Homo sapiens: one gene and its partners. The protein of the gene in region 2 interacts with the protein of the main gene of each other region in a biochemical or structural test. Each region holds a gene or a part of one and is shown on either strand. Other genes may lie near its edges. The genes, in order: CD58, CD2, CD2BP2 and LCK.

What was found.
Region 1: the proteins of CD2 (region 2) and CD58 form a complex in vitro, tested with the Homo sapiens proteins (3 studies listed by BioGRID and IntAct, with this or other methods).
Region 3: the proteins of CD2 (region 2) and CD2BP2 interact in a biophysical measurement, tested with the Homo sapiens proteins (6 studies listed by BioGRID and IntAct, with this or other methods).
Region 4: the proteins of CD2 (region 2) and LCK form a complex in vitro, tested with the Homo sapiens proteins (one study listed by BioGRID).

What each region holds. Positions count from the first base shown.
Region 1 is NC_000001.11:116,512,972-116,519,628, forward strand, and holds the end of CD58 (lymphocyte function-associated antigen 3), read right to left. Parts: intron 6,332-6,657; exon of another isoform or gene 6,297-6,331; coding exon 6,260-6,296; coding exon of another isoform or gene 6,256-6,259; exon of another isoform or gene 5,729-6,255; intron 1,852-5,728; coding exon 1,842-1,851; 3' UTR 1,563-1,841; downstream 1-1,562. UniProt on the Homo sapiens protein: Ligand of the T-lymphocyte CD2 glycoprotein.
Region 2 is NC_000001.11:116,763,731-116,770,694, reverse strand, and holds the end of CD2 (T-cell surface antigen CD2 isoform 2 precursor), read right to left. Parts: intron 6,290-6,964; coding exon of another isoform or gene 6,212-6,289; coding exon 6,089-6,211; intron 2,232-6,088; coding exon 1,912-2,231; 3' UTR 1,466-1,911; downstream 1-1,465. UniProt on the Homo sapiens protein: CD2 interacts with lymphocyte function-associated antigen CD58 (LFA-3) and CD48/BCM1 to mediate adhesion between T-cells and other cell types. CD2 is implicated in the triggering of T-cells, the cytoplasmic domain is implicated in the signaling function.
Region 3 is NC_000016.10:30,351,801-30,360,568, forward strand, and holds the start of CD2BP2 (CD2 antigen cytoplasmic tail-binding protein 2), read right to left. Parts: upstream 3,509-8,768; 5' UTR 3,412-3,508; intron 3,135-3,411; exon of another isoform or gene 2,908-3,134; 5' UTR 2,882-2,907; coding exon 2,804-2,881; intron 2,523-2,803; coding exon 2,384-2,522; intron 2,259-2,383; coding exon 2,101-2,258; intron 2,001-2,100; coding exon 1,568-2,000; intron 1,488-1,567; coding exon 1,381-1,487; intron 1,296-1,380; coding exon 1,185-1,295; 3' UTR 1-1,184. Other genes in the region: TBC1D10B (TBC1 domain family member 10B), read right to left, coding at 6,144-6,773, 6,863-7,017, 7,372-7,561, 7,738-7,803, 7,927-8,041. UniProt on the Homo sapiens protein: Involved in pre-mRNA splicing as component of the U5 snRNP complex that is involved in spliceosome assembly.
Region 4 is NC_000001.11:32,266,601-32,275,264, reverse strand, and holds part of LCK (tyrosine-protein kinase Lck), read right to left. Parts: intron 1,145-8,664; exon of another isoform or gene 1,068-1,144; coding exon of another isoform or gene 936-1,067; coding exon 831-935; intron 529-830; coding exon 447-528; coding exon of another isoform or gene 273-446; coding exon 182-272; intron 1-181. UniProt on the Homo sapiens protein: Non-receptor tyrosine-protein kinase that plays an essential role in the selection and maturation of developing T-cells in the thymus and in the function of mature T-cells. Plays a key role in T-cell antigen receptor (TCR)-linked signal transduction pathways.

The DNA of each region.
Region 1 (6,657 bases), 250 kb from region 2:
CGAAGTAGGGACTAGCGAAGTGAGATGCTTGTTACAGAGACTATTCGGGGATGCTGCAGTTATAGGTCAGCAGTATGGCTATGGGGTGGCTAGCTGAAAAAGGGAGAAGAAAAGACCATGCGAGGGTATTAGATTTGTAGATTTTGAAAGCATTCAAAATCTGGAAGAAGTGATGTCAGGGAGAAGACTTTGACATAGTGCTAAAACCTCCAAGGGATAGGGAATAACAAAGATAACCAGAACAAGGGATGTCAGGTGGTGATGATTAGCTGGCATGAGCATCAAAGCCGAGGAAGGAGCACTGGTCTGCAGGCAGAGAAGAGCAAGGAGGACGTCTTCTTTCCCCTAGGCCCTGAATACAAGGGATGCAGGAAAGAACACAGCTACCCCTTGAGAGGCTGTGGGAGGCAGCATCCCCAGGGAGAGCTGGGTTTCGATTAGAACAGCGAAGCAAAGGAGGCATTCACAGAAGAGGACATCAGGGATGTCGCTGCTGATGGATGGGGGCAGAAAGTGGGGCATTACAGAGCTGCATGGGACAGAAGTCTCCAGGGGAGTCATGGGCTTCCTACAGGGTCTGGGATAAAGGGTTTGACAAGATTAGTCTGAGACAGGATAGGAATCCATGCCACATGGAGATGGGGGGAGCTGGGGAGATGTGGGTCTTCCCAGAAGCACTCTGGGCTCCTTTCCCACTCTTGCTGAGGCCTGTGGGAGCTCAGATGCAGGCTGTTCTAGAGAGAACACATGTAGCCTGAGGGGTTTTTTTTGAGATGGAGTCTCGCTCTGTCCCCCAGGCTGGAGTGCAGTGGCCTGATCTTGGCTCACTGCAAGCGCCGCCTCCTGGGTTCACGCCATTCTCCTGCCTCAGCCTCCCGAGTACCTGGGACTACAGGAGCCCGCCACCACACCTGGCTAACTTTTTTTATTTTTAGTAGAGATGGGGTTTCATTGTGTTAGCCAGGATGGTCTCGATCTCCTGACCTTGTGATCCACCCACCTTGACAGGCCCATCTTGGAGTCAAGAAATATTGATTTCTTCCTTCAGCCTGGAGACTCTCATGTGACAGGAATTCCAGGGACAGTGCAGGCACAAGCTAAAGCGTCTATGTATTGACTTGGGTTTACATGGCTGCCAGAGGCAACTGGCACCGTCCACCACTTCAGGAGTGGCTGCCACTCTGTATTTGTTATGACTACGGTTTTCCAGCTACTGTCTGCTGTTGACCTCCCAATGTGACAGCTAACCAATGCAACAAACTAAGTAGGCTAATTAATGGCAGCGAGAGAAGTCTCCCTGCCCCACCTGTGTTATACAACTGCACTGGATGGTGGTGATCTGCTCTTTTCAAAAGCAGCTAGAAGTAAAGACCCATGTGTTCACTTGCCTCGTACTGACAGCAGTGGAACCCAGTGAGGGACAGTACTTTTCTCCCTCACTCCATGAATGACCCTACAATGAATTATTTTTCCCCTAAAGCAAGGGAGAAAGAGTATAGATTTTAAAAGGGTATGTGACCCTTATTTTTCTATCTTAGGAAAACAGTAGCCAAACCACCTAGTCACTTGTGTACATATTTACATTTATTTACAAAAGTATCTACATCATCAGTAAAAACAATTTACTGACAAAAAAAGCAAGCACCTAGTCATATAATAAGTTGATGACAGCCAAAACTAATGCTTGTTCTTTGTTAGTGGGTATTTCTTCTTAAAGCAGCTGCTTCAAGTTACATTTCCAACAGTTGTTCAAAAATTGTAATACTCAAATGAGAAATCAGATGGCTTTTTAGTTTTTAAAATAATTTAGTTATGCTGTTGTCTTCATCTTCTGTTACCAATCAATTGGAGCTACAAAAAAAAATCATATTATTAACTTGTAAAATGCAGTAAATCTGGGCTGCAGACCAGGAGTCTTAATTACCCTCCTATTCTAAAGTGAATAGCCCTTTTGTAATAAACTCATCAAAGCCAAGGGAGCTAGGGAGCAGGGATGGAGGAAGAACTGCCTTGAGTGCTCTTGGGATAGTAGTCTGAGTAACACTTGAAGAACAGCCTTCAGGATGCTGCACTCAATAGCAGCCCCAAGGCTCCTCCCGCTTACTCTCTGAGTATAACTGAAAGATTGAACAACAGAGCTGAGACTGTTAGACCCACATGTAAACTGTCACCCATTTGTAACAGCTACTTCCTTCTTTGCTACATGAAACTCCTGGGGATGGTTTTCTTCCTACCTCAAACTTACCTTCCTGTTTAGTCACCTCTGTGGCAACGACAGAACAATCTCTGGCTGTCTTGGAGTAAATCAGCCGAAAAACAAAACCGCATCCTTGAGCAAGCCCTCAAACCGAGTCCATTTCCCGGCCTCCTCCCCCGTGGTCTGCGTATTTCCACAGAGCTCAAAATCAGACCAGGCCAGAGCTCCCCAAACATTTGTATCTCATTGGTAACAAGAATTCATGAGAAATTAGTGCTGTGGTCACAGGGGTGAGGTAAAGGACAGCAAACTAGAAGTTTCCCTCCTTGGGAGCCTCACAGAACATGAAATGGGTGCTGTGACTTTCTGAGGGGGATAAAGTGGGAAATGTTTGTAAACCAGGTTGGCAGGCACAGGATTCTTGTTGGGGCAGCTTTTTGCCGGTCTCTGCTTCCCTGCCCTCTCCCAGCAGTCTCCTCACCCACTACAAGGAATCAAGCCTGCTTCTCCAGCTTGGCTCCTGCCTGAGATCCCACCTGTAAATCTTTCTTCTCGGAGAAATAGGACTCCCTGCTTCCTTTTTAATTTGGCTAACTTTGTGATCTGTTTTCTAGACACTTACACAAAAAATACCAGGGCACTCAGAAATTGCCTACGTTGAACTGCCTGGGTGAGAAGTGTGGCGTGGCCATTTCCCGTCAGATGTCTGCTATCTACTCATCTGTCCTCTGTTGTTCCTAATTGGGTTTAGTTCTTCCTGCTCCTGCCCTCGCGCAGCTGGGGAAATATTGCATTTGTTCCTACTTATGCTTGCCCCTTTCTCATCTCCTCCCCCGATCTCCTCCATCTCCACCATATACAGAACCTTTTAACATTTTAATTTAACTTAATTTTTTTGATGCCCAGGCTGGTCTCTTAACTCCTGGGCTCAAGAAATCCTCCCACTAACTCCTAAACTCAAGCGATCCTCGCACCTCAGCCTCCCAAGTAGCTGAGACTACAGGTGTGTGCTACCATACCCAGCTTCATAACCCTTTAGTAACTGAGCTTAGAGAATTCCCCCTGCTGCCACAATGGGTTCTTTAAATTTAAAAATAATTATTAAATAGGCAGTAAACACACATGATGCAGAACTTGAATAGTAAATAAAAATATACCAAGAAAAGTAAGCTCCTCTCTCAATCTCAGCCCCAAATACTCAGGTCTCTCCCTAGAATGCCACCTTAGAGAGGTCAGTGTTACCTTTCTAGACTCATCATTCCAAAGCAGTGCTTTTCATGCAAAATGTTCCTGCTCAAGAACCTATAATGGCTGCTTATTTCCATATCACTCCATTCTAAGGACCTCCTTGCAAATATTCAGTGTCTTTTGCCTCTACTTCAACTCGATGCCAGGCAGGTCAATCTTACTATCAAATAAATCACAACAGATTTAATTCCCTCTCATGTATTTGCCTCCGCTGTTTATCCCACCTGGAATGCCTTTTCTACTCCACTCTTGTTCTGAAAATGTAGGTCACATCCTACCCCCTCCAAAGCTTTTCTGATTATTCTGGCCTCTCCAATTCCTCTGCGTTGGTTGCTCAGCCCTTACCCTCATATCACACATTCTGCCTATCACCTGTGCTTCCTGCCTAAGTCCTTCTAAGAGTTTCGTATGCTCATGTGCATCCATTCTCTCTCCCTGGTGTGGCCACAAGCTTCTTGTGGGAGGAGCCCTATTATATGCTTTCTCTGAATCCCACACAATGTCTAGCCTCGCTGGGTACTCTGACCCCCACCCTATCAGCTAGCACAGTGCCTGGTATCGCATAATCTCCATAACGTTTGTTGTGATGAAAGGAACAGAGGAAGGGATGAGTTCCAGAATGCCCATCCCCTTTCCCCGTGGCCCTGGATGATGCCCCCCTACCCCCATCATTGGTAGTGATGGCTATGCCTCCCCCATCCACTCAGAGTTCCCCTCCACTGTAACCACCTAGATCTCAGCAGAGACCTGACTTGGCTCTCACACTCACCTGGGGCTCACGCATATTGCTCAGATCTGAAATGCCTTCCTCTGACCACAAGCCTGGAGGTCCCTACCTCTCCCACCTCACCTCATCTCCAGCTACTTGGCTCCTCTCTGCCCAGCCTCCTGGCCCATCAACCCCTCATGGCCTTGGGTCCTCCCAGCTTGGGTCTGTGGCCGGCTGAGCTGCCCCTTGTACTTCCTTGCCCCCAGGCCTCCTGCCACAGCTTGTTTCTCCTGCACTGTTCCACCTGGCAGCTGAGGAGAAAGGACACCTGTGGCCCATCCATCGATCCCACCTCACCTAGGCCCTTGCTGCTGCTTAGCCACCCTCACTTCATCCCTGCACTGACCACAGCAACCGACTCCACAAAACCAAAGGTCTTAACCCCTCGCCTACCTCCTTGTCTCTGCAGCTTTAACATGTAGCCTCCTCCCTCGAGTCTCTAACCCGGGGCTACCCTGGCTCTGATCCTGGACTTTGCTTCCCCAGTCCCGCCTCCTCTGCCTCTTCCCATCACCCTAGGGCATCTAGCTTTTCTTTCTTAGTGACCTCAGGTGCTCACGGCATCAATTACTGTCCAGATGAAGAGGCGCCCCAATCCGTAACTCTAGCGTGAAGCCCACGCTCCAATTCTGTGCATGGACATCACTAGCCAGGTAATACACCAGCACCCCAAAATCAACCTGTCAAAGCAAAAATTCATAATTTTCCTTCCCAACCAAGATTCCTGTGTGACTCCTCTGTGACACTTGGTCCTGTCGCTTTTATTTTTCTTGAAAAATAATAGTAACAATAGTCATAATGGCTAACATTTATTGAAAACTATTATGAGCCAGCCACTATTGTAAGCATTGTACTTATATTAATATATTTTGACACAGTTATTTCTATGTGATTATCTATGCTATCATTGTCATTTCTATATTATCATTATGCCCATTTTCCACAGAAGACAACCAAAGCACAGAGAGTTTAAGTGACTTGTCCAAGGCCTGTGAGAAATGGAGCTGGCATTTGAACCAGGGAGTTTGGCATCAGAGCCTACACTGCCAGATGAAAGTTTTGCTAACAGGACCTCTGCTGTTTCTCTCAAACCTAGCTCTGCATATTCAGTTCTGCCACCATCACCTTGACTCAGGCCCTCTTCTCTGCTTGGCTGGATTATTTCATTACTCCACTAACCAGTGTCCTCATCTCATCTCCTATTAATTAGTCCCATGCTTTGCCAGCAGAGTGATCTTACTAAAGCATAGTTCTGCTAGAAAACTCTGCGGTTCTCCCTAAAGAATGACCCAAAGCCTCTCTCAAAGTCTCAGCCTGGCCCAACCTGCCAGCCCAGCCCCATCTTTCTCTAATGCCTCAACACTCTCTGCTCCAAAGAGGATGGCTTGCTACTTCTTGTCCTGCCCTTCACACCCTGGGCCTTAACTCTTCCCCTCATCCCTCAACACCCAGCTCATGCCTCTGCCTCCTGACCACCAGTGGGATCTGCCAGGAGGGGGCCTCTTGGAGCACCCTACGGCGGTTTATTAAACCAACACTGCTGCTAATTGTGTTTGTGTCCTATCTTTTATATGTGACTACAGGCCCAGCTCTGACCCTGGCTCCTGAAGTGAACCCTATCCCTGATCCAACTTTTTCTGGGATGGGAGGTGGAGGGAGTGTATTGTAGTGGTTAACAGTATAACTCTTGGAGTCCAAAGACCTAGATTTAAATCCCAGCCCATCACTTACTAGCAACGTGACTTTGATATCTCACTTGACTTCTATGAATCTCATATGCGCTGTCTCTAAGCAAGGGGTATGATACTCCTCCTGCAAGGCTCATTGAGAGGGTTCCAGGAAACGATATGCAGAGAGTGGCTAGTGCAGTGCATGGCACACAGTTGGTACTTAATACACTATGGTTAGTATATCTGCTGATGTTACTTCTTATTACTGTACAAGGCAACCAACAGATGAGTACAATCTGGCTTCCCAAGTAATGGGCATCTACAGCAGGGCTGCTGTTGTTCTGGCACAGAGTGCACAGCCTGCAGTGTACTTACTTGGTTCTGTCTGGTTTTCTGTCACATTTCAGAATACCTAAAAATGAAGAAATTGTCTTCTCAATTAAAGAACTGAAAAGAAAAGGTGAAATGTGGAGTTACTGACTGCCTATTAGAGGCCTAAATATGGAAAACTAAGCCAGAGCCCCATCACCCTGGGATTTCCTGCTATCCTATATGCTTTAAATCAAATCGGCTACAGAGCTGGTCCAAAGAGTTGTTCAAAAATTGGTCAGAACATGATAGAAAACCAAATGCAAAAACTGTTGACAAAATGGCTAATTTTACCTCGTGCATAAGGCTGAAGATGCAGGGAAGGCTAGAATAGTTTGGACCAGTGCTGTCCAATAGAAATATAATGCAAGCCACATAAGTAATTTAAAATTTTTGGTATCCAC
Region 2 (6,964 bases):
AGAGCCTGACACATAGTAGAAGTTCAATAAATGTTCGTTGAATGAATGAACGATGAAGGATTGAATAGGGTGTATGTGTTTTGTACCATATGTAATGCCACAGGAGTTCAGAAGAAAGGCAGAGCCCAGGGCTGAATAGACCAGGGAAGATTTTCTTAAGGGAATGGCGTATGAGCTGTTCTGGTGAGATAGCCAATGAAATCACTCATGGGTATCATGAAGAATGAGAAAGGGGCAGAGCTAGGACCCTCATCTCTCTCTCTCTCTCTCTCTCTCTCTCCTTTTTTTTTTTAGACGGAGTTTTGCTCTTTTGCCCAGGCTAGAGCGAAGTGACACGATCTCACCTCACTGCAACCTCCACACCCCAGGGTTCAAGCAATTATTCTGCCTCAACCTCCCGAGTAGCTGGGGTTATAGGTGCGTGCCACGATGCCCGGCTAATTTTTTTTTTTTTTTTTTTAAGTAGAGAAGGGGTTTCACCATGTTGGCCAGGCTGGTCTCAAACTCCTGACCTCAGGTGATCTACCTGCTTTGGCCTCCCAAAGTGTTAGGATTACTGGCACGAGCCACCATGCCCGGCCAGAGCCCTCATCTCTCTACTGGGTAGATCCTGTGGCAATTGTTACCTAGCTGGATTTTGTGTTTGAATTTTGGGAGGCGATGAGGTTTCATTCATCATTGCCCTTAGTAATTAACTCTGGTTGCTGGAAAAATAGACTCTCAGATTCAGAGGAAAAAGTAGTTCAATCCTCAGTGAGCTGTCACAGGAAGTCCTGAATGTACTTAGTTTTTGTGGTTTAGCCCTCAGAGCTTCCTGCCAGAGTGTAACAAGGTTTAGCAAGTCTAAGAAGCCAAGGAGAAGGCGGGCAGACAGGACCACAGACAAGGCACCAGCATTTCAAAGCAGGTGCCTTCTCACCACCTATTGTTTTAGAACTCTAACTGAAAACTATTTTTTTCTCCCCACTTCCCTCAAAGTACAGCTGCATGACTGCTAGCTGGGGATGGGGTCTGACCTTTTAATCATAGTCATTTAAGACACTTAAGATTTGATTCAACTGAGTTGTCTCTTAGCCTATCTTTTTGTATGTCATCTGATGAGTTCATGACACCTCCAGTATCCATAGATTCCCTTGTTTTGAAGGATGACAGTACAGGTCATTATGACCGTGTCTGAACAGTCAAGAAAGTAAGACCTAAAATGTTAAGTTTTCTGGTGACTCCTGTTAACGTTTGTGCATGGAGGCTTTAATTCATTATGGAAATCTACAAATAGGTTGTTGGACCCAGCTTTGCAGCTGAGACCTGGGGAGCATGTTCGGGTCATTCTGGTGAGGACTAAGGAGGTCTCAGCCGGATTGAGTTGACTGAATTTGATCCTGCTGTCACACCAGCGAGGCTCTTTCTTATTCGGCAGCTTCCTCTCCTCGACACTGGGATCCTTCACACAATGAGCAGACACGGGTCTAGTCAAAGCTTTTATTTCACTTTTACTCACAGGATGGTGGGCAAGTGTCCACCAGGGCACATAAGAAACTCCAGAGTCTCTTAAGCAGATAGGCTGCTTGTAGTGAGACCCAGGCACACCAATCACTTGATTTATCGCATCTACACATGACCTGAGAGGGGACAAGAAATCTCTAAGATTTCTGTGCTCGGTCCTCTACCATTCTTGCAATCACACTTATATTGCTTCTCCTTACTGGTGTGATGGAGCTCTCTGAGGAGACCAAAAACTCCAGATGTTGACCACATGGCTGAGTTCGAAGATGCAGAGGTGGCTGTGGCCCACAGCCTCAGGAGGTGACAATGTTCTGCACACAGAAAACACCTCATGGAAGTACGGATATGCACATCAGGAGGGCAGAAATCCACAGTGCTTTTTATTGAAAAAGACAGTTTCTATCTTTTTTAATTAGAGGAAGGGGACAATGAGTTTTCTGCTGCCCCATGGGGAGGTTTTGGCTGAACTCGAGGTCTGGGGAGGGGCGGGCCTTTCTGCTGGTGAACTTGTGTGCCCGACGGAGCAGGAGGCCTCTTCTGAGGCTGGTGCTGAACACGGTGTCCAGGAGGCGGGGGACGATGACTAGGTGCCTGGGAACGATGACCAGGTGGTGGAGGAGGATGTTGGGAAGTTGCTGGATTCTGAGGGGTTGAAGCTGGAATTTGGTGGGGCTTCCGGCCCCTTTCTTCAGTAGCTACTCTGTGGGCTCTTGTCTCCAGCTCCTCATCTGCAACAACAAAACCTCAATAGAGTTCATCTTGGCCAGGTGAAATCAATGTAAATATTGAGTACCTTTTATATGCAAGGCGCCATGCTAGCTGCTTTGGGGGATGCAATGAGGAAGCAGAAGTTGCCCCTACTATCTGAGAACTCTAAGCTTGTAGGAGAGAAAGAAGTGCTCACCATAAGGTAGAGTGAAAGCCTAGGACAAGAGAACTCAAGGAATCAGCAGGAAGAAGACACATGGGTGGAGGGCTTTGTGCCTGGGGCTCCCATGATCAGAGAGAGCACGCAGACCTGGAACCCTACCTCTGTGCTGACCTAGAAATTGTTCCCTGAGAGCAAGAACCTCATGGTTAGAGCGCATGGGAAGGGGTTATGAGCAGTCATGGAGGATATTAGTAACTACATTCCTTCTGAGGCATTTCTATGTTAGATCTGCCTTTCCCCCAATTCTACTGTCATGCAATCCACCTTCCGGCAAGAGGTTGGAACACATGCAAGGAACTTTTTGTCCTTAGAAATTTACTCGCTTCTCAGAAATTCAAGACCTATGTTCTTGGCCTTAGGAGGGAAAGAACTCCTCCTCTCCTCACCCTTCAGGATTTTCTTCTTTGTGTGACTTCAGTCCATGAAAGCAGGCCTACAGCTACTCGTAATGTAGTTTTTCCTGTACTCTTAAAATCACAGGGAATCTGTGAAGGTGCCCAGCTGCTAGAGGCCTGGAGCACCCTGCTGGCCCCTCTGGACTCCTTTAGGCTGTAAGTTAGGTATTTCAGTCCCTGCACCCAAGGCCGTCTTTGCAGTGGCTCCAGAGGGAGGTAGGAAGAGAAGTTTTTCCCTGGGGTGAAATAATTACCTCTTTTTTTTTTTTTTTTTGAGTTGAAGTTTCACTCTTGTTGCCCAGGCTAGAGTGCAATGGTGCGATCTTGGCTCACTGCAGCCTCTGCCTCCCAGGTTCAAACAATTCTCCTGCCTCGGCCTCCTGAGTAGCTGGGATTACAGGCGTTCACCACCACGCCCGGCTAATATTGTATTTTTAGTAGAGATGGCGTTTCTCCATGTTGGTCAGGCTGGTCTCGAACTCCCGACCAGGTGATCTGCCTGCCTTGGCCTCCCAAAGTGCTGGGATTACAGGTATGAGCCACCGCACCCAGCTGAAATAATTACCTCTTACATCTTTATGGAGATGTGTGGCTGGGGAAGCACAAGCCCTCTCTAAGCATCACCCTGTAACTTCCGGATGTTGATTCAAACCAGATGGCCTCCTCTGACTACATGAAATGTGAGCATCAGATGGCTTTGAGTGTAGAGTCAAAGTTAGACAATGTGATTTTGATACCTAAATGGCTCGTGTGCTCTAAGCACAAAGAGGAAAGGGCCTCCAGAAAGGACAAAACACATCCTCTATGCCATCTTCCGTGCCCTGCAGTCATTGCTTAGGTTATGTCCAGTAGACTGTGGAGAGGGCTCTAACCCCTGGCCCTAGTTCTGAATTATGGGGCAGTGGGTGGTCCTTCTTCATCTCCTATGTGGCAAGCTTGCACTGGCCATTGGTTTACTACTCTGTTCACCCACTATTTTTGTTTTTTATTTGTTTTGTTTTTTTGAGACAGGGCCTTGCTCTGTTGCCCAGACTGGAGTGCAGTGTGTGATCGTATCTCACTGCATTCTTGATCTCCCGGGCTGAAATGATTCACCCACCTCAGCCTCCTGACTAGCTGGGACTACAGGCATACACCAATGCACCCACCTAATTTTTAAGTTTTTTTTTTAAAGTAGAGACCAGGTCTCACTATATTGCCCAGGCTGGTCCCAAACTCCTGAGCTCAAATGATCCTCCTGCCTCGGCCTCCCAAAGTGCTGAGATTACAGATATGAGCCACCACACTTGGCCCATACACCATTTGGTTCATTTGTCCTTCCAACATTTATTCCTCATCTTCCAAGTGTTAAGTGTCATTGTGACTTAGACACAAATTGTCCTCAGGAAGCCTAAAATCAAGTAAGAGGCAAACAAGAACTGAAAATCGCAATGTCAATTTCTGTGAAGAGCCCAGGGCCACCAGAAAGTGTAGACAGAGGCACATGAGCTCTGGTAGGAGGAATGGGGTGTAGCCACATGGCTGAGACTGCAGGCAGGGTTGGACAGACAAGGTTGGCTACGGCTCTGTGCACCCTGCCTGGTTCAAGCAGGACAGTGGGTCCTCAGCCTACCCACTCCAGCAGCTGCAGCTGGCGCCTAAATGTGTGCTCCCAGGAATTCCTCCAGGCTCATTGTCCTTCTCCCTTGTTTGCATCTCCTGGTTACTCAACCCAGGGCATGACTGGAATGAGGCAAGCGAGGCTGACAGGCATGCAGTTTAAAGACACACCAACTTTCAGGTTGTGCAAGGGCAGGCCAGCCTCCTTAAATTCTATGCCTTAAATTCTGGGCTCCTTGCCTCGGCCTAGGCCTGAGTCAACCTACTGGCCATAGGATTTAAGGCAAATAATTGAACCTCACTGAACTTAAGCTTCCTCATCTGTGTTGTTATCTATCTCCTAAGATCACTCTGAAAGCTGGATGCACTAATAGACATAAAACACAGAGACTAACGACTTTTTTATCAGCATGAGCTAACCATCATTCTTCTCAGCCTGGTGATGGCAGAGATTGCCTTGTCTTGGGGTGACAAGTGAGGTCCACCTTGGAAGAAGATATGGTCTTTGACCATTAGTCAATGGAGAAGGAGCATGGAGAGGAGCATGGAGAACAGCCAGAGCTGGGCACAGAGGAGGATAAGCCAGGCATGCCTAAGGGCCCTGCCAGCGATTCTGCTGTGCTGTGGTGGAAAGTGTGGGACAGTCGTGGTGGGAAGAATGGGACTAAGTTCAGGATGATGTTTCGGGGCCTGGGCTGGGGGTAGTGACGTGATGGGACGTGGGGCTGAGGGACCGCAGCCTGATGGGGAGGCAGAAGGAGAACTGAGGAAGAAATCTGAGGTAAAGAAGCCAAATCCAGAGGGCACGGGGCCCAAGGCCACCGGTGCCTGGGGAAGTTTGGACCACCTCCCTGGGCAGCACTGGAAGCAGCTGGTGTGGCTGTGCCTGCCGGTTCTAGGGAGAGACCAAGTCCTGCTGTGAACGTGAATTGCAGAGAACCCCAGGGCCTGTTCCCTTGGCTGCAAGTCCCGCCAATGGCTGACACCCTCATCTGTGCCCCCCACAGTGACCCCGGGTTGGCCATTCTCTGAAGTGTTCTGCCTTGGGTGGCCTGGATGCTCCCTAAGCCGGCTCCCCACTTGCAAGCATAACCTTTTCATTGCTGATAGATTGTCAGACAGGCCTGATCTGAGGAAAAACTCTCAACCCTAACACATCCCTCGAACAGAGAATTAGCAAAGGGGGCACAGGCACCCTGCTTTAGAACAGCTGTTTTCCTGTGACTACCTGATGACCTGAATGATTTTCCCTGTGTTTCTAGGAGCTTGGTCCTGAACTCACCTTGGGCCACCCATAGATAGGACATTTATTCCTAGAAACGGTGTTTTGGAGCTAACCTTTCTGCCTATGTAGAGAAGTGTGGCTCATTCAAAAGATGTTCACATTAGCCTGTCACCAAGTAGGCCTCAGTGGTGGATTCCAATGAGGCCAACTGGATTCAGTGTCTCAAAGCTCCCACATTGTCACCACTAAGAATTTGTTTTTCAAAAATCAAGCTAACCACAAAATGAAACAAGCTATAACCGCTGACTACAACCCTGACATTCCGAAACTACCTATTTCCATCATTTTCTCTGCAGATTCAAGGTGTCATCCCCATGAGCTGTTTCATGGGGATTTTGCTGGGGCCTGCGGTGGGACAAAAGAGGGGGAGCTTACCATTTCTCCGACTCCTCTGTTTTTTCCTTTTGGTGATATAGAAAACGAGCAGTGCCACAAAGACCATCAAGAGGCTGCCTCCTCCACATATGCCAATGATGAGATAGATGTCCAGACCTTTCTCTGCAAAAGGAAGAGAAGTGGGATGGCTGGGAGGGGTCCAGGCAGAGAGCCCATTACTCTGGCCAAGGATGCTGCCTCCTGCATCAAGCAGATAGAAGAGCTTGTTGGGACCTTTCACCCCATAACTCCCAGGCTCACAGAGGGTGGTGAGTGGTGTCAACCCTGGAAGGACCCAAGGTCCTTGGGAAGCTCCCTCTGCAGGCTCTTTGGGAAACTGCTCTCAGGGGCTAGAAATGCCTGATTGTTCATGCACCAAGGCCGGCCTGCCCACTGCCCCCGTCATGGAAAGCATCACGAAATTTTAGATCCGAGGATCTTAGAGATACTCTAAATGCAACCTCTAGCTTCAAACATGAGGCCCTGAGAGGGAGAATGAGTTGCCCGAAGCCACACAATATCTGTTCCTGAGCATTTCCCTTAAGCAGCCCCTTGTCTCGGTGTTTCTGCACTGTTGATCCTGCTCTCGTCTCTGGCTACCCCCACTGCACCATGATTCCTTCTCACTGTCTCTACCAGGCAGTTTCCAAACACTCAGGGTAAATATTTCACTTGTCCAGCCCAGCACTCTGACCTCACGGCCAGCACCCTCTCACAGAGTTTCCCTGGAGCCACGAGAGAAACCCGGGTGCACAGTGCGTTAGTAACAGCAGTGGGCTTAGTCTTCAGTTGCTGGACCTTCAGTCACTGTAATGCAATGAGGAAAACAGTGACTTTGGTGTTAAGGGAAATGGGTTTGGTCTAGGCTTTTTTAGG
Region 3 (8,768 bases), on a different chromosome or scaffold from region 2:
CGGCCTGGCTGCAAGCTGAAAACACCTGGGGGCTTCCAAAATGCCCAATGCCTGGGCCACAACCTAGACCAGCTCAATCTGAATCTCCAAAGAGATATTACAGCTCCCCAGGAGACTCCAAGGGGCAGCCAGAGTGCAAAACCGGAAGAAACCATCTAACGTGGGGCAAGGGAGGCGTAAGGCAATGCTGGTGGGGCGTGGAGGTGGAGGGTGCCAGGCCCAGGCTATAGAATTACATCTGTCTATTTCCCATGCCCCTGCCACCAGACTCTGAATTCCTGGAAGGGGACCAACCCAGCTACCTCAGTTTCCTCAAGGCACTAGCCCTGTGCCAGGCACATAGTGGGGTCCAGAGAATGTAGGCCGCAGGGCCTCCAAGGCCAGGCAGCAAAGGCTTTGTGCCAAGAAAGGTCTGGGAAAGGAGCCCACTGGGTCTGGGCCAGCCCTTTGATTCCTGTGATCTCCAGTGAGTCACTGCCCCTCTCTGTGCCAGTACAATGCACACTTGGCCCACACTTGGCCACTGAGTTTGCACTTCACTGAAGGGCTGTGGGAACGACGGCAAGGATAGAGGAAAGCCAGATTAGGGAAGACACTGGCTCTCAGAACCTTAGGGATCTCGGTCTTGGGCCACTCATCCCACTTCTGCCCAGCATCTAAGGAGCTTGAGAGGGTGAAGCGAGAGTAAGAGGGTTCCATGCTCACCCCCAACAGGGTCCCAATGTCTTCTCGATGCCCTGGTCCTTCTGGGCCTAAAACATCCACTTCTGGGGCTCTGTCCTCTGGTGGCTACAAGGATAAAGAATCTGAGGTCCTGAAAGCCAAAGACCTAAGAGGAATCGAACAAGAAACCTGGGAGAGGAGCACAGAGCAGCGCAGTTGGGGGTGTTTACACGGCAAGCAGAGTCCAGGCAGGGAGGCCACAGGATACCTGACAGGCACCTCCAAGAAGGATCTTCATGGGAGTACTCAGGGACCAAGACAAGTCCAAAGGGACTGTGGAGAAGGCCCCTGGCTTCTGGCCATCAGCACAGCCAAGGCCCCAGTACACAACTAAAGGCTTTTATTGGGAAAGGGAAATTGACTGAAAAATGGCCTCCAATTTCCTCGCTGCCTGAGACACTTGGTGCCTCCTCCACAAAGTCCAGGAAAGAAGGGCCCACCAAACTGGGCCCCCAGCAGGCTCAGGTGTAGAGGTCAAAGTCAATGCGTTTGGAGTTGTAGAACTGACCACCAGGGGGGTCCAGCTTCCGGCAATAAACACCGTCCGGGAAGTAGCCTTCACTCACCCAGGTCTGCAAGGAGAGGGCAGAGCTGGGGAACAACTGACAGGAGTGGGGGAAGCAGGGACAAGGCAGGAGGAGGGAGAAAGCAGCTCACCTGCATCTGGGCGCTGGTGAAGGGCCCATACAGCTCGGCATCCCCCGTGTTCTCCCACTTATATTCCCACATCACATCCACCAGACCATCTCCCCGCGACTCTGCTTCTAAAATAACAGGCAAAGCCATTTGGCCTCCAGTGTCTCACTTCCTACCCACTGCCCCCTCCTCTGTCCTCCAAGCTCACCTCCTCTCTGGGTAGGGGTTGGGGTCTCCAGTTCCTCCTCCGCCAACTCCTCAGCGAACATGTCCAGGGAGGGTGGGGGTGTGGGATTGTGGGGTCCTAGGGTCTGACACCCCAAACCCTTCAGACGCATAGCCAACCGTTCCCTTGTTTCCTGGTACACACCAAGGTTGCCCCGGGCCACCATCTGGTCGGCCAACCCGGAGAGCCGGTCCAGGCGCTGAGGGGAACTGGGTTGCCCAGGCCCCTTTCTCCCTTTGCCTCCTCCTCGGGCCCCCAGACGCCTCAGTGCCCCAGCCACTGTCTCTCTAGGCAATAGGAGCTCCAAAAGTCCCTCCAAGAGGGCTTGGGCACTCATTGAGGTCTGGCCCAAGCTGTCCTCCTCCTCCGAGTCTGAGGCCTGGCGCTGGCCAGGTGGCCGCTCCCGGATCTTCACCTGTAATGGGAAGATGGAGTGATTTCCCACCAACTGCCACGGGAGCAGGCCCAGCATCTGCCACTCCCAGGCCCCAGCCACGCCAGCCCCTGGGCCGCACCCAGTCAATGTTGTCCAGCCAGCTGTCTCGGATCTGAGCATCCCGGTTCAGGAAGTAGTTGCCATCGGCATCAAAGTGGCCTTCCTCCATCTCCTCCTGCAGGTTAAAGGGTGTGATCCGAACACCCCCCTCGCTGGGGAGTGTGGCTGCCTCCTGACCTGCACCAAAGACACAGGTGCCCTTTTCCAGGCATGGAAAAAAGAGACCGGAGCCTCCCTCGCTCCACACCACCAGAGGCCCCTACTTGTTTTTCCAGCAGAGTGTATTCTTGGGTACAGCTTACCTTCTACATCCTCTGAGGCCAAGATGTCATATTTGCTGGACCCCCCATCATCATCATCCTCCTCCTCATCGCTATCCAAAGAGTGTTTGCCTTTAAAGCGGCTCCCAGGACCCCCTGACCCAGCCACAGGGTCCACCAGCTGTGAGCAGGAGCCAGAAAGTTGAGAAATGCAGGTTACTGGCTACCTCCCCAAATACTTCCGGATCTGGACCCAAATATTCCCCAAATATTTCAGGATCTCGACTACTTCCCCAAATATTTCAGGAGCCACACTAAAGACGCTCCCAACCCATTCCTCAGAGAACCTGAAAAAACTAGGCTTTTCTCTGCCTGCCCGCCCCGCCCCTCTCCCGCCAGCTTTCTTCCTCTTCAGGCTTCTAGCTCCTCTTTCCCCCACACAAAGCAGTCTGGCCCCCTCACCTTCTTCTTGGGGACAATGATTTCATCCTCATCCTCCTCATCTCCCACGCCTTGGAAGGTCACTTTCCTCTTTGGCATGACGGGGCAAAGAGGTGTTTCTCAAGCTGAGGAAAGGATGCAGAGGAAGGGAACCGGGTGAGGAGGGGACTCGCCAACAGACGCAGCACAGCAAACATTTTTCCTGGTCTGTGACAGGTACAGTTTGGGAGCGGAGGGAGCACAAAAGCAGGGGCCGAAAGGAAGCTGGCAGCCAGGAGGCCTCCAGGACTTGGGTCTAGCATCCGCGAGTTAAACGGGGCGGGGACGGAGGAGCGGACCCTCTGGATCCCCCGACCCTGGCTGAAAGGAGACAGGCTTCACCACGTGACCGCCCCCAACTCCAGCCCCCGCAGTCTGCGCGCCACCGGCTCCACGGGCTGACCCCCGCTCTCTACCCTGGCTCTCTCGGAGCTCGCCGGGCCCCGGCAGACCCAGGACCTGGCGCTCTCGCCACCCCGTTCCTCCCTGCTCCGAACTCCCAATTCCGTGTGGTGAGCCCCAACTGTCCCGGGCTGTGTACAACTTAGAGGGCCACGGGGATTCGGGCGGTCCCACCCTCGCGCACTCACCTGGGAATCCGCGGAAGGCGAGGTGGAAAAAAGAAGAGATGCTTGCGCCAGGGCTACATCCGGGGCACCCGGCCGCCATCACCCGGAAGAGGACTGCGGAAGGCGCCCGGGAAGCCCGGAAGTGGCTTCACTCGGGTTAGGGAACTAACTGGAAGAGCGGGCGGAAGTATGCGATAAGCGAGCGAAGACGCCTCCACCCTCTCTCCCGCCAGAAGTGACGTCAGTCACGTGGGAGGACAATGGTGAGAAGAGGGAACCTAAGAATTCCTGGACTCTGACTGGGCGTGAGAAATGGCCGGAAGTAGCTTCGAGTCCGTCATTCAAGCAGTAGAGGCTCTGGAGAAAAACTGGAGCGCATCTGCTTAAAGGGCCGCCCAGGGTCAGGATGGAGGGGCAAAGTCCGAGCAGGGTCAGTGGGTTGCTGCTCCGTTTTCCTGTCCTGGGTTCAAGTCACCCTTCCCCCAGGGCTAAGGGCTCAGCGCCCCTACCGTCTCGTTAGAAATCCTGCCTTCCCATTCCTATGGTCCAGTGGTCAGCCCTCCTAGCCTGAGAGGTGCAGCCTTGCCTCTCCGAGGGGAAGCCTGACTCTCCCGATGGCCAGCCTGGGGCCCCTGGACGGCTCTCCGGGCACTTTCTGAACACACCTCCCTTTAGGACCCAGGGGAAATAATTTGTCCCACGCCCATACCCTGGGCGAGTTCCTGGTTTCTGAGGTGGGAGAGCCATCACTGGAGAGGTGGCATTGGCGCCAGTACTCAGGCCAGAAGCCCCTTGTGCCCTGCTCTCAGGTAGGCCTGGAAAAGGGCAACAGTGCCTCTCTGCAGCATGAAGCCCCCCTGAGCAAACAGGGCCTAGCAACTCCTGCCCAGGTAGCGGAATGTGGCCCAAGCAGAAGGGGGAATTGGGGAGGTAGCGGGGATCAGCCCCTGTGCTGGGACCCCTAGCTCTTGACACTCGGAGCCTGCATCCCCCTAAGCCAAGACTGTGCGCAGGCAGCACGTGCTGAAGCCAGACGAGGACAGCATGAGAGTTCCCCTACTCTTCCCCCAGGCAACTAGATGGGCCACTTCTCTCTCCCTAGGGGTTTCCTCCCATATTGGATCACGATGAAAACTGCACAGAAAGTCCGTGCTCAGTTTCTTCCATGGTTACAGAACACAGGCCCCAGACCAGGAAGGCATTCTGCTAAAGAAGGGGACCCGAAACCTCAGCTACCAGCGCCGATGGTTCATCCTCCGAGGAAACCTCCTCTTCTACCTAGAACACTAGACCGACCATGCACCCCTGAGCCTCATCCTGTTAGAGAACTGCCAGGTGGAACCACACCTTAAGGCTGCAGAACCCTATGCCTTTACCATCCTGACCCCTGGGGTGGAGGGCACAGGTGGGCGGGCCTACAAGCTGGCTGCAGAAACCCAGGAAGAGCTGGAGACTTGGCTGTGGGCACTGGCTGGCGCGAGCTGGAGGCGGCTGGCTGGGCTGCTGTCCCCCCTCCCCCCCCACCAAAACCCAATACTGGGAGCTGTGCCAGGCAACTGGCCAAGAACCCATCTCATCCCCAGAGGACAGTGGCTTTCTAGCCACTGTGAGTACCCCCTCCAGCTTCCAGGAGTTGCATGAGCACTTTGGGAAGGAGATCCGGGTGCTGCACGTGGTACATAGAGAGCTCCAGGCAGCCAGTGACAATGGAGACAGCAGATCCCAGGCAAAGATGGAGCAGGAGCTCAACCAGTGTCTGATGAGTGACTGAGAGATGGACCCAAAGCTAAGAGGTACCTACTTGCCAAGACAGCAGACTGCTTCAACAGAGACCCAGGTCCTGGCTCTGTCCCTCCCTCCCTCGTCCTTACCCCATCCCCCCCTCATCAAATAACAAGGCAGAAAACAGGCCCAGGTACAACAGCAGGTTCTTTTCCAATTCCTCAAAGCGCTGCATGGGGTGGGGGCAGAGACAGAAGAGAATGTAAACATTGGGTTCCACCCCCTGGAGCTCAAGGGAAGACCCTTACCCAGATAGGGACTAACTGGAGGGGTGGAAGGGAACAAGGTGAAAGGTATGGGTCCTGGTGAGACAAAAGCAGGGGGGCCTGAGAACACAGAGCAAGGTGGGTTTGGAGGGAGCACAGCAGGGTGCAGGAAGGGAGATGGGGGACATTTCCTATTCCAGTGCATGTCCCCTTAAATAAACTGGGTACAGGAGCATTATGGAAGGAGAACCAAAGGACAGAAGACAAAGCGAGCACCCCCACCCCAGGCCAACGCCATCCTCTGTACACAATTACAACACAGGTCCAGAATGAGAGCCCTGGCCAGGAAGTGGGGGAGACAGGGAGGGCTGAAGACAGGGAAAAGGAAGCCAGCTCCACCTCATGGTAAGGGGAGCTATGGAGTGTAAGAATCTGAAACTGCTGACTCCCATCACCAGGAGTCACCCCTGGGATGACAACGGGCCATTCAGGACAGCACCTAGGAGGGGACCCAGAGGGAACTGGGGCAGGAGCGACAGAGACCCCAGCTGAGCCTCATGGGAGATGAGAGGCTCCAGACTCATTTGCAGCTGCCCATCTGTCCTGCCCGTGTAGGGATCAGCAGCTGGCGAGGAGATGGGGAACCAAGCCACTTTCCCCAGCAAGGGACAGCCTGACAAGGTGCTAGGGGGTGGCACCTTGGGCCAGGCCTGTTCTTGGCTGAGGGAAAGAGGGGGGCCATGCAGTCCAGCCCCAGGGCAGAGGTCAGAAGTAAGCGTCCTGCCGGGCCTCGGCTGAGGGCCTGTCCCCACCATCATGGGGGCCTGGGGGCCCATCTGCCTTTCGACGCAGCGAAAGCTTCCGGCCTTGAGCCTTCTTCTCCTGCTTCTGCCGCTCCTTCTCCTGCTTCTCTCGCTCCTTTTCCTGCTTCTCTCGCTCTTTCTCCTGCTTCTGCCGCTCCTTCTCCCGCTCCTTCTCCTGTTTCTGCCGCTCCTTCTCCTGTTTCTGCCGCTCCTTCTCCTGCTTCCGGGTCTCCTTGCTGGAACCCAAGGGGGTGCTATTGCCAGTGGGTGAGGGAAGGGATGGATGCAGTCCCTCAGCAGTGACCACAGGCCCTGGGGCAGGCCCAGCACTGGCTCTGCGGACGGGGGGCGGCGGGGACGGGGCCCCTCCAGCTGCCCGGGAGCCTCGGCTCTTGAGGCCAGGGAGGCTGAGGAGGCTGGAGGAGGGGCCCAGGGGTGGCTGTTGCCGCCGGCGCTCCTCGTGGATGGCCCGGGACCCATGCAGTCGCCGTGAGGGCCGATACTGCAGCTCCCCCCGCGTTTCCCGCCACTTCTTGAGCTGGGCTGCATTCTCCCGCTCAATCAGTGCTTCTGTCACCGGCAGATTGGTCACCTGCACAGAGAGGAAATGCGTACCAGAATGGAGCTGAGGGTGGGAGCGGGCTGAGGCAGGCAGGGGCTGCGTTGAGGGCACAGGCCTACCTCATGCACCAGGAAGTCTTCCTGCATGCACTGCTGGGGCAGGTTACGCAGCTGCTCCATGGTCTCATACATGCCTTGGCAGGAGCGCAGCTTCTCCACTGAGCCCAGCGTGTGGCGCAGCAGGACCAGGGCCACCCGGAAGATGATCTTAACGCCTGCAGGGGTGGAGAGTAGAGAGCATGGGGTGGTCAGACCCAAGATCTCAGCCTGTCCTGATCAGGATAGACTCACAGCCCCCATCCCCATCTACTGCCAATCTCAGATGAGGAAACTGAGGCCCTGTGAAAGTACATGAGCTGCTATCAGTCTCAGGATCTTGGCAGGGAGAGCAGGCTCTGGGTTGGTGGCAGAACTAAAATCAGGCCTGTTTCTCCAGCCCCCAGCTGCTTATGGTGAAACCTCCACCCAACAAGTACCTTTTGTCCATGGACCACCAGAAATATGACAGAACCCCTGGTAGCCACCACAGAAACCCCAGCCCCTCATGGCCTGGAGGGCCACAGAAGTACCTTCACAGAAAAACATGTCCCAGACACGCAGCACCGACGCCCAGGGCAGGGTGCGGGCGAAGATGCACATGAACCACTCCGTCATGTAGAGCACAGGGTCAATGCGCTGCCGCCGCAGGTGGCGATGCGCCAGCGGGGAGGCCCGGCGCAGGAGTGCAAAAAAGATCTCCCCGTCCAGCTGAATGGCCTCCTGCAGGTGGGACAAGCCATGAGAAGAGGGCCAAGTCAGCTGTGCCCCCATCAGGGGAGAACTGGCCGGCCCTGTGGGCAGAAGCCGGGAAGGCCAGGGTGGGGCAAGGCAAGGACCTGCCTGCAGCCTGGAGGAAACGCCACAGCCCCGGATGCACCCAGCCTCCAGACACTCACCAGCCCTGCACTGTAGTAACCTGGGAGGTACTTGTCGCAGATCTGCACCAGGCACCAAAAGGCTTGCTGAGAAGAGCAAGAACAAGGAGGAGGGGTGGGGCCTGAGAAGCAGGGAGCAGGGAGCTCCCCCATCACCACTGTAGGGTGAGATCCCCCCTGCCCCTCCCGGCCCAGGACCAGGGCGCTGACCTCCGCAGGCATGTGCATGAGCAGGACCGCAGCCACGGGGGCCTGGGCCTGGCAGTAACCCTCGTCAGGCCGGTAGATGGTGTAGGCCTTCAGGATTCGGTACAGGTCCTGTTGCCTGTGGGGGTTGGGGAAGACTGTGAGGGCAGTCACGGGCTGAGAGCTCTGTCCCCAAACCCAGTTCCAGATTCGTCCCAGAGTTTATCACCAGGCTCCTCCATCCACCTGCCCAGTCCTGCTGAGCGAGCTTCAGCTAAAGGCTCAGCCCACAGCAGAGCACTCCAGGCCCCGGGGCTCCGCCTTTGGCTACATACTCCACATGCTCCTGGCCATCCCAGCACAGGCTGCACCCTCGCCCTCCTTCCTCAGCCACATCCCAGAAACCTTCCAGGTCATTTTCTCCAGGAAGCTTTCCACAGCTGCAGCATCAGCCCTCCTCTAGCACTAAATGTCTTTGTCACCCCAAAGCAGTAGCTCCCCAGGGCAGGGCCTGCCTTATCGGTCTCACTGGATTTCATGGTTCTTGGGGAAGGCTTGGAAGCCAGCTGTGCCTCAGCCCTTTCTCCTGTCTCTGCATCCAAAAGAATAAAATCTGTACCCTAGATCTGCTCTTCTTGAGGGTGCCCCACTGCCGTGTCCAGGACTTCTATTCACTCAGCCCCACATCAGAAAAGAGCCCCTTACTCCAAGCCTAAGCAGCGCTGCACCCTGAATTCCATTCCTGCCTGCTCCTCTCCACCTCCACAGCCATTCGCAGCTCAGACCTCCATTTCTTGCCCATAAAAAATGACCTCCCAGATCCTCTCCCTGCCTCCAGTCTCACACATCCTCCTCCTGACCACTTC
Region 4 (8,664 bases), about 84 Mb from region 2:
CTCAAAGACCCCTCCACCCCTTAAGCCAGCCTCCCCCAACCCTGGCTCAGCAATACTGAGCCTCGAATTTTGTCCCAAGGGCGGCCACCCCGAGCTGGTCAAGGGCCGCAGGAGGGCTGCGGGTCGCGGAGATCGCCGCTCCCTCACGGACTCCGCCAGAGCAAGGTGGAGAGGGACTCACTGCTCCAGGATGCGGAGCTGTTCCCCCTTCTCAAAGCCCAGATCTCCGTCGTGAGAGGGCTCATAGCTGTGCAGAGCGATAACCAGGTTGTCTGTAAAGACAAGGGGCATCAGGGAGAACCGAGCTGGGATCGGCAGGAAGCCTGGAGTTACAGGGTGGGGGACAAGGAAGGCAAGACCGGGGAGAAAGTAGGTGGGGGAGAGGTGGAAGCCAACAGCCAGGGATCCGCAGGCCTTGTCTTTCAGGCCCTGCTGCCTGGGGTCACCTTGCAGTGGGGAAGCCGGCGGATTGGAGCCTTCGTAGGTAACCAGTGGGTCCCGCACCTCAGAGCCATTTCGGATGAGCAGCTGTGGAGTGGGGGATGAGGGTGGGGTCAGAAAGCAGAAGATTGGGTCAGACCCTGGCCCCCTTCCCCCCTGCTCTGCTCTCAGCCTCTCCAGCCTGGTTAGATGTTATCCCTGAGTTTACCAACTACTTTCTGTGTGATCTTAGGAGATTCCCTTCCCCTCTCTGGGCCTCTTTTCCTTTCTGTATTTCAGGGGAGAGGGCCACTCTATTCTTTCAAGGGCCTGTAGTGCTGGTCATTTCTTTCTCCTGGGTTGCATTCTCTACCCAACTCCCTCACCAAGGCCCCTGTCTCGCCTCTTACCGTGCCCTTGCCATCCAGTGGGACTATGGGATAATGGCAGTTCTCACACACATCGATGTTTTCCATCCAGTCATCTTCCGGGTGTGAGCTGCAGCCACAGCCCATGGTCCCTGAGGGAATGGAAGAGGGGGCTGAAGGGGCTCCCCCAAGATCTGCTCCCCCAACATCAGATATAATGGGGCCTTGCCCTGGAAAGTTCCAAAAGTACCTGAGATTGTGAGATCCTGGGATCCCCATTCACCAGCCACAGAAAAGCTAAAATAGGGGGTCCCAGCTCCAAACCGGTGCTCCCTCTGAGCCCTCAGGCTACAAGTAAATTCACACACGGCCCCTGAGCCCTAGCCCCACCCTCCCACCTGGGATGGGCAAACCGCCACAGGCACCTTTGTTAGTCTAGTTACCCACTTCCTGCCTCTGCCCCCTCCCTCTCCCTCTGCCAGTACCCTGTGTTGGGAGGACCACCTCCTAGAGATGACACACACTTTCCCAAGCCTGGGAGAGACCTGACTTATCAGACCCTCCCCTACTGGAGAGGTGTGCACGCCACACCTCCTATTATAATTCCCCTGTCTAGCTGAGGAGGCTGAGAAAGAGGCTTCTGCTCCCGAAGTCCACCATCAAGCCCCCGCTGTTCCCCTCACACAGCCCACAGTCATCTCACAGGGTTCCTTCAAACACGGGCTTGCTTCTCCCCAGCAGAAAACCCTCCAGTGACTCTGTTGGCCATAACTTTTTTTTTGTTTATTTGCCTGTTTTAGCAGTGGAAATTTTTTGTCTGATGAAATCAAGCAGAACTCCATAGATAAAGTGATAAATGTGTGCCTGTTTTGCCTGAAGCAGAGTGGGGCCCTCACTTTGAAGCCCCCGGAGTCCCTGCAGCTCCTCCTTCTCTAGGGCTGCTCCTCAGAGTGCTTGGAAAGCGCTGTCCTCAAAGTTTAATGTACCATGCATTCCAGACCTTTCATATCAAGATGAAATCCACCTCCGCAGTCTATTCTGCCACACACACACTCTCTCACACACACACACTCACACACACCCTATACATATACACACCCTACACACACACACTCTCACACACACACACAGAGGCACCCCCTATCCCACCTCCACAGAGGCATCCACACACACACACTTTCACATAAACACACACACTCACCCCTCACAGGTACTCCCCCACACACTCACACACAGACTCACCCTCCCACACACAGGCACCCACACTCACACTCAGTAAACACATACACTCACCCTCCACAAGTGCCCCCCCACACACACACTCACCCCCCACACACAGGCACCCACTCTCACACACGTACCCACACACACATTCATGCACACACCCTATACATACTCCCCCTACACACACAGGCTCCCACACCCAGGAACACACACACTCGTCCACACACCCACACAGTCACACCCACATACACACACACACGCATTCACCCCCACACACACGCACTCACCCCACACACACACATTCTCCCCTCCCCAACACACATTCATACACACACACAGGCACCTCCACACACTCACCCACACCCATGCACACATCCACACACTCACCTTACACACACACACAGGCATCCCCTCCATAGATACCCCCACACACCCACACTCACACACACACAAACACCCACACACAGGCACCCCCACACACCCCCACACACACAGCCTGTGTTCTGAACTATTCTTGCCTTTCCCAAACACCCCATGCTATTTTCTTACTTAATGCCTTTGTACTTGTGGTTCTCCCTGCTTTGAAATGCGTGCGCTCTCTCGCTCTCTCTCTCTCTCTCTCTCTCTCTTTCTCTCTCTCTCTCTCTTTCTCTCTCTCTCTCTCTTTCTCTCTCTCTCTTGAGACAGGGTCTCCCTTCCTCTCCCAGGCTGAAGTGCAGTGGCGCAATCCCCTTAGACCTCCTGGGCTCAAGCAATCTTCCCACCTCAACCTCCCCAGTAGCTGAGACTAAAGGTGCACACCATCATGCCCAGCTGATTATTTTTTTGTAGAGATGAGGTCTCACTATGTTGCCCAGTCTGATCTCGAACTCCTGGGCTCAAGCAATCCTCCTGCCTTGGCCTCCCCAAATGCTAGGATTATAGGCATGCACCACCGAACCCAGTCGGCATGCTCTCTTTTGTCCAACTGCTGAATTCTAACTCAACCTTCAAGGCTCAGCTGAAATATTACCTTTTTTTTTTTTCCTGCAACCTCTACCTCCCAGGTTCAAGCAATTCTCCTGCCTCGGCCTCCTGAGTAGTTGGGATTACAGGCATGCACCATCACGCTTGGCTAACTTTTGTATTTTTAGTAGAGACAGGGTTTCACCATGTTGGCCAGGCTGGTCTCGAACTCCTGGCCTCAAGCAATTCTCCTGCCTCAGCCTCCCAAAGTGCTCGGATTACAGGCACCTGGCCTAAATATCACCTAGTCTGAAGACTTCCCAATGCTCTTTGCTTCCCTCTCACCCCAGTCTCCTGCAACATTCTATTCAGACCTCAATAATCAACTTAGACACAGAGTTCCATGATTACTGATTTACATGTCAGCCCCAGGGTCCCACTGCCTCTCCCATACCTTTGATGAGAGTGGGGGTTCATCAAGAGCAGAAGCTGTAGTTTATTTGTCTGAAAGCCACCAGCACCCAAAATTAGTTAATAAATGTCAACTGGAACATGCAGTGTTAATGCATAGAGTCTCCCATCTGCAAAGGTCTTAGAAACCAGCAAGCCTAATCTCCAATTTTATTATTTGTTGATTTATTTTTGAGATAAAGTGTCACTCTCTTGCCCAGACTGCAGTGCAATGACCCAATCCTAACTCACTGGAACCTCAAACTCCTGGGCTCAAGTGATCCTCTAACTTCAGCCTCCTGGGTAGCTGGCACCACTGAGCCCAGGTGATTTTTTATTTGTTCTAGAGATGGGGGTATTGCTATGTTGCCCGGACTGGTCTCAAATTCTTGGCTTCAAGTGATCCTTCCTTCTTGGCCTCCCAAAGTGCTGGGATTACAGGCATGAGCTGCCATACCTGGCTAAACCTCTGATTTTAGATGAGCAAACTGAGGCCCACAGAGGTATGCTTAAAGTCACACAACCTATTTGGAGTAGAGCAAAGCTGGAGTTGCTGGCCGGGCGTGGTGGCTCACATCTGTAATCGCGGCACTTTGGGAGACTGAGGCAGTAAGACCATTCAAACTCAGAAGTTCCAGACTAGCCTGGGCAACATAGTGAGACCTCATCTCTAGAAAAAAAATCAAAAAATTAGCCAGGTGTGATGGGGCATGCCTGTAGTTCCAGCTACTTGGGAGGCTGAGGCAAAAAGATCACTTGAGCCCAGGAGCTCAAGGCTGCAATGAGCTACGATTGTGCCACTGCACTCCAGCCTGGATAACAGAGCGAGAGCCTGTCTCAAAAAAAAAAAAAAAAAGGCCAGGCGCGGTGGCTCACACCTGTAATCCCAGCACTTTGGGAGGCCAAGGCGGGTGGGTCACAAGATTAAGGGATCGAGACCATCCTGGCCAACATGGTGCAACCCTGCCTCTACTAAAAATCCAAAAATTAATCGGGCTTGGTGGCAGGTGCCTGTAATCTCAGCTACTCAGGAGGCTGAGGCAGGAGAATCGCTTAAACCCAGGAGGTAGAGGTTGCAGTGAGCCGGAATTGCGCCATTGCACTCCAGCCTGGCAACAGAGTGAGATTCCGTCCGTCTCAAAAAAAAAAAAAAAAAAAAAAAAAAGTCCGGGCACGATGGCTCATTCCTGTAATCCCAGCACTTTGGGAGGCTGAGGCGGGTGGATCACGAGGTCAGGTGTTCAAGACCAGCCTGACCAACATGGTGAAACCCCGTGTCTACTAAAAATACAAAAATTAGCCAGGCATGGTGGCACACGCCTGTAATCCCAGCTACTCAGGAGGCTGAGGCAGGAGAATCACTTGAACCCGGGAGGCAGAGGTTGCAGTGAGCCGAGATCAAGCCACTGCACTCCAGCCTGGATGACAGAGCGAGACTCCATCTCAAAAGAGCAGGCTGGGCACGGTGGCTCATGCTTGTAATCCCAGCACTTTGGGAGGCCAAGGTGGGTGGATCACCTGGGGTCAGAAGTTCAAGACAACCAGCCTGGCCAACAATGGTGAAACCCTGTCTCTACTAAAAATACAAAAAAAAAAAAAAAAAAAAAGTTAGCTGGGCATGGTGGCTGGAGAATTGCTTGAACTCAAGAGGTGGAGGTTGCAGTGAGCCTAGATCCTGCCACTGCCACCGCACTGTTCACTCCAACTTGGGTGACAGAGACTCTGTCTAAAAAGAAAAAACAAAAGAGAGACAGAGAGAGAGAATTCATGCTGGGTCTAAGTGGAAGCAGGGAGCAGTGGAAGTTTCTCATTAGCAAAACTCAGAAGACTGTCCCCATAGTTAGAGACCTAAGTTCAAATAGCAATTTTGACACTTACTGTGTGACTTTGCTGAAATCATTCCTCCTAAGCCTCACTTTTCCTCTTCTGTCAAATGGGGCTCTTCATCCATTTCTCATAAGCTCACATGAATGTTAGCTTAGTTTAGTGCTTAGAAACACTTTCACCAGTGCACAATTCTGTCCTACCAACTCCTGCTTTGGAAGGTGGAAGAATGGGACTGGGTAATTAATCTCCTTTGCTTTAGACTCCTGTTTCTTTCTTTTTTCTTTTTTTAATAGAGTCTCGGCTGGGCGCGGTGGCTCATGCCTGTAATCCCAGCACTTTGGGAGGCTGAGGAGGGCAAATCACATGGTCAGGAGTTCGAGACAAGCCTGGCCAACATGGTGAAACCCTGTCTCTACTAAAAATACAAAAATTAGCTGGGCGTGGTGGTGCGCGCCTGTAATCCCAGCTTCTTGGGAGGCTGAGGCAGGAGAATTGCTTGAACCATGGAGGTGGAGGTTGCAGTGAGCTGAGACCACGCCATTGCACTCTAGCCTAGGTGACAGAGCAAGATACCATCTCAAAAGAAAAAAAAACAGACAGAATCTCACTCTGTCACCTAGGCTGGAGTTCAGTGGTGTGAACTTGGCTCACTGGAACCTCCACCTCCCAGGTTCAAGTGATTCTCCTGCCTCAGCCCCCTGACTAGCTAGGACTACAGGCATGTGTCACCACGCCCAGCTAATTTTTGTAATTTTAGTAGAGATGGGGGTTTCACCATGTTGGCCAGGGTGGTCTTGAACTCCTGACCTCAAGTGATCCACCCACCTCAGCCTCCCAAAGTGCTGGGATTACAGGCGTGAACCACCATGCCCAGCCTAGACTCCTGTTTCTTTTCTCTCTTTCCTTTTTTTTTTTTTTTTAGACTTGCTCTGTTGCCCAGGCTGGAGTGCAGTGGTGTGATCTGGGCTCACTGCAAGCTCTGTCTCTCCTCCCTCAGCCTCCCTAAGCAGGTGGGACTACAGGCGTGCACCACCACGCCTGGCTAATTTTTGTATTTTGTGTTTTGTATTTTTAGTAGAGACAGAGTTTTGCCACGTTGGCCAGGCTGGTCTCGAACTCCTGACCTCAGCCTCCCAAAGTGCTGGGATTACAGGCAATGAGCCACTGTGCCCAGCCCTAGACTCCTGTTTCTTTTCTTTTCTTTTTTTTTTTTTTTTGAGACGGAGTTTTGCTCTTGTTGCCCAAGCTGGAGTGCAATGGCACGATCTCGGCCCACCGCAACCTCTGCCTCCCAGGTTCAAGCGATTCTCCTACCTCAGTCTCCCAAGTAGCTGGGATTACAGGCATGTGCCACCACGCCCGGCTAATTTTGTATATTTATTTATTTACTTATTTATTTATTTACTTTTATGGGTATCTGGTAAGTATATATGTTTATGGGGTACATGATATATTTTGATAGAGGCATACAATGTGTAATAATCACAAAAGGGATAAATGAGCTATCCATCACCTCAAGCAAGCCTCTTATTATTATTATTATTATAAAAACTAGCTGGGCATGGTGGTGCATGCCTATAATCCCAGGTGCTTGGGAGGCTGAGGCAGGAGGATCACTTGAGCCCAGGAGTTCAAGGCCACAGTGAGCTACGATTGCACCACTGCACTCCAGCCTGGGTGACAGAACAAGACCCCTTGTCTAAAGTAAATAAATAAATGAATAATAATAATAAATTTTTTTAAGTTTTGAAAAGAAGCCCAACATACTGCCAGGCATTTGCATTTCTCTTTCTGCATTTGCATTTCTCTCATTACTTTTTTCTTTTTTATTTTTTTTGAGACAGAGTCTCACTCTGTCTCCCAGGCTGGAGTGCAGTGGCGCGATCTCAGCTCACTGCAACCTCCGCCTCCTGGGTTCAAGCGATTCTCCTGCCTCAGCCTCCCTAGTAGCTGGGACTACAGGCGCGTGCCGCCACACCTGGCTGATTTTTTATATTTTTAGTAGAGATGGGGTTTCATCGTGTTTGCCAGGATGGTCTCAATCTCCTCACCTTGTGATCCTCCTGCCTCGGCCTCCCAAAGTGCTGGGATTACAGGCGTGAGCCACTGTGCCCGGCCTTATTATTATTATTTTTTGAGACAGAGTTTCGCTCTTGTTGCCCAGGCTGGAGTGCAATGGTGTGATCTCGGCTCACTGCAATATCCACCTCCCAGGTTCAAGTGATTCTCCTGCCTCAGCCTCCCAAGTAACTGGGATTACAGGCGTGTGCCACCACACCCGGCTAATTCTGTATTTTTTAAGAGACTGGATTTCTCCATGTTGGTCAGGCTGGTCTCAATCTCTCGACCTCAGGTGATCTGCCCGCCTCGGCCTCTCAAAGTGCTGGGATTACAGGCATGAGCCACCATGCCCGGCCTAATTTTGTATTTTTAGTAGAGACAGGGTTTCACCATGTTGGTCTGGCTGGTCTTGAACTCCTGACTTCAGGTGATCTGCCCTCCTCGACCTCCCAAAGTGCTGGGACTACAGACGTGAGCCACCGTGCCCAGCTCGACTCCTGTTTCTTAAACTGAGATACTCAGCCTCCCATGGGTACCGGAAGTCATGTCATGGTGTGCATTTTTCCAGAGCATGAGTGTTTCCTGACCTTATTCATGTAAGTTAAACAAACATGACCTATTATGGAGGAAAATGCAAAATGTGCATGGAATTTTAAATCAAATCAAGAAACTTTCCAGGAAAAGGGTACGTATTCACTCTTTCCCCTACTGTTAGGAGTCCTGGGGGGAGGTGGACATTTGGGAAATCCTGCTAGACCAGAGTGCACCCATCTGTGACTGCAAATGACTTTTTGACTATTATAGCCTGAGAGTAATTAGCAACAAGAGCCCCCAGTAAAGGACTAACAGCAACCTGGAACTGGTCTCAGATAAGCTGAGCTGTTTTGTGAGGTAGTGAGCATCCTGTTGTTTGTGATAGTCGTATGAGCCTTAGGAAACCACAAGTTGGTTGTGTTGTAAAGAGAATACCAACATCAGATGGAATGTGGACTTAGACCAGTAAGGTCCCTGCCAGGCTTGACATTCTTGGAGCCTTTAGAAAAAGGCAAGAGAAAGATTGTAGAAGTTTGAGGTTAAGAAGAGGGAATGTATAGGAGGAAGGGAGAGATGGGAAAGAAGAAGAAGGAGGAGAAAGAAAGGGAGGGGGAAGGGGAGGGGGAGGGGGAGGAGGGGGAAGAGGAGGGGGAGGAGGGGGAAGGGGAGGGGGAGGGGAGGAGGGGGAAGAGGAGGGGGAGGAGGGGGAAGGGGAGGGGGAGGAGGGGGAAGGGGATGGGGAGGAGGGGGAAGGGGAGGGGGAGGAGAGGGATGAGGAGGGGGAGGAGGAAGAGGAGGAGGAGGTGAAGGAGGAGAGGAGGTGGTGGTGGCGGAG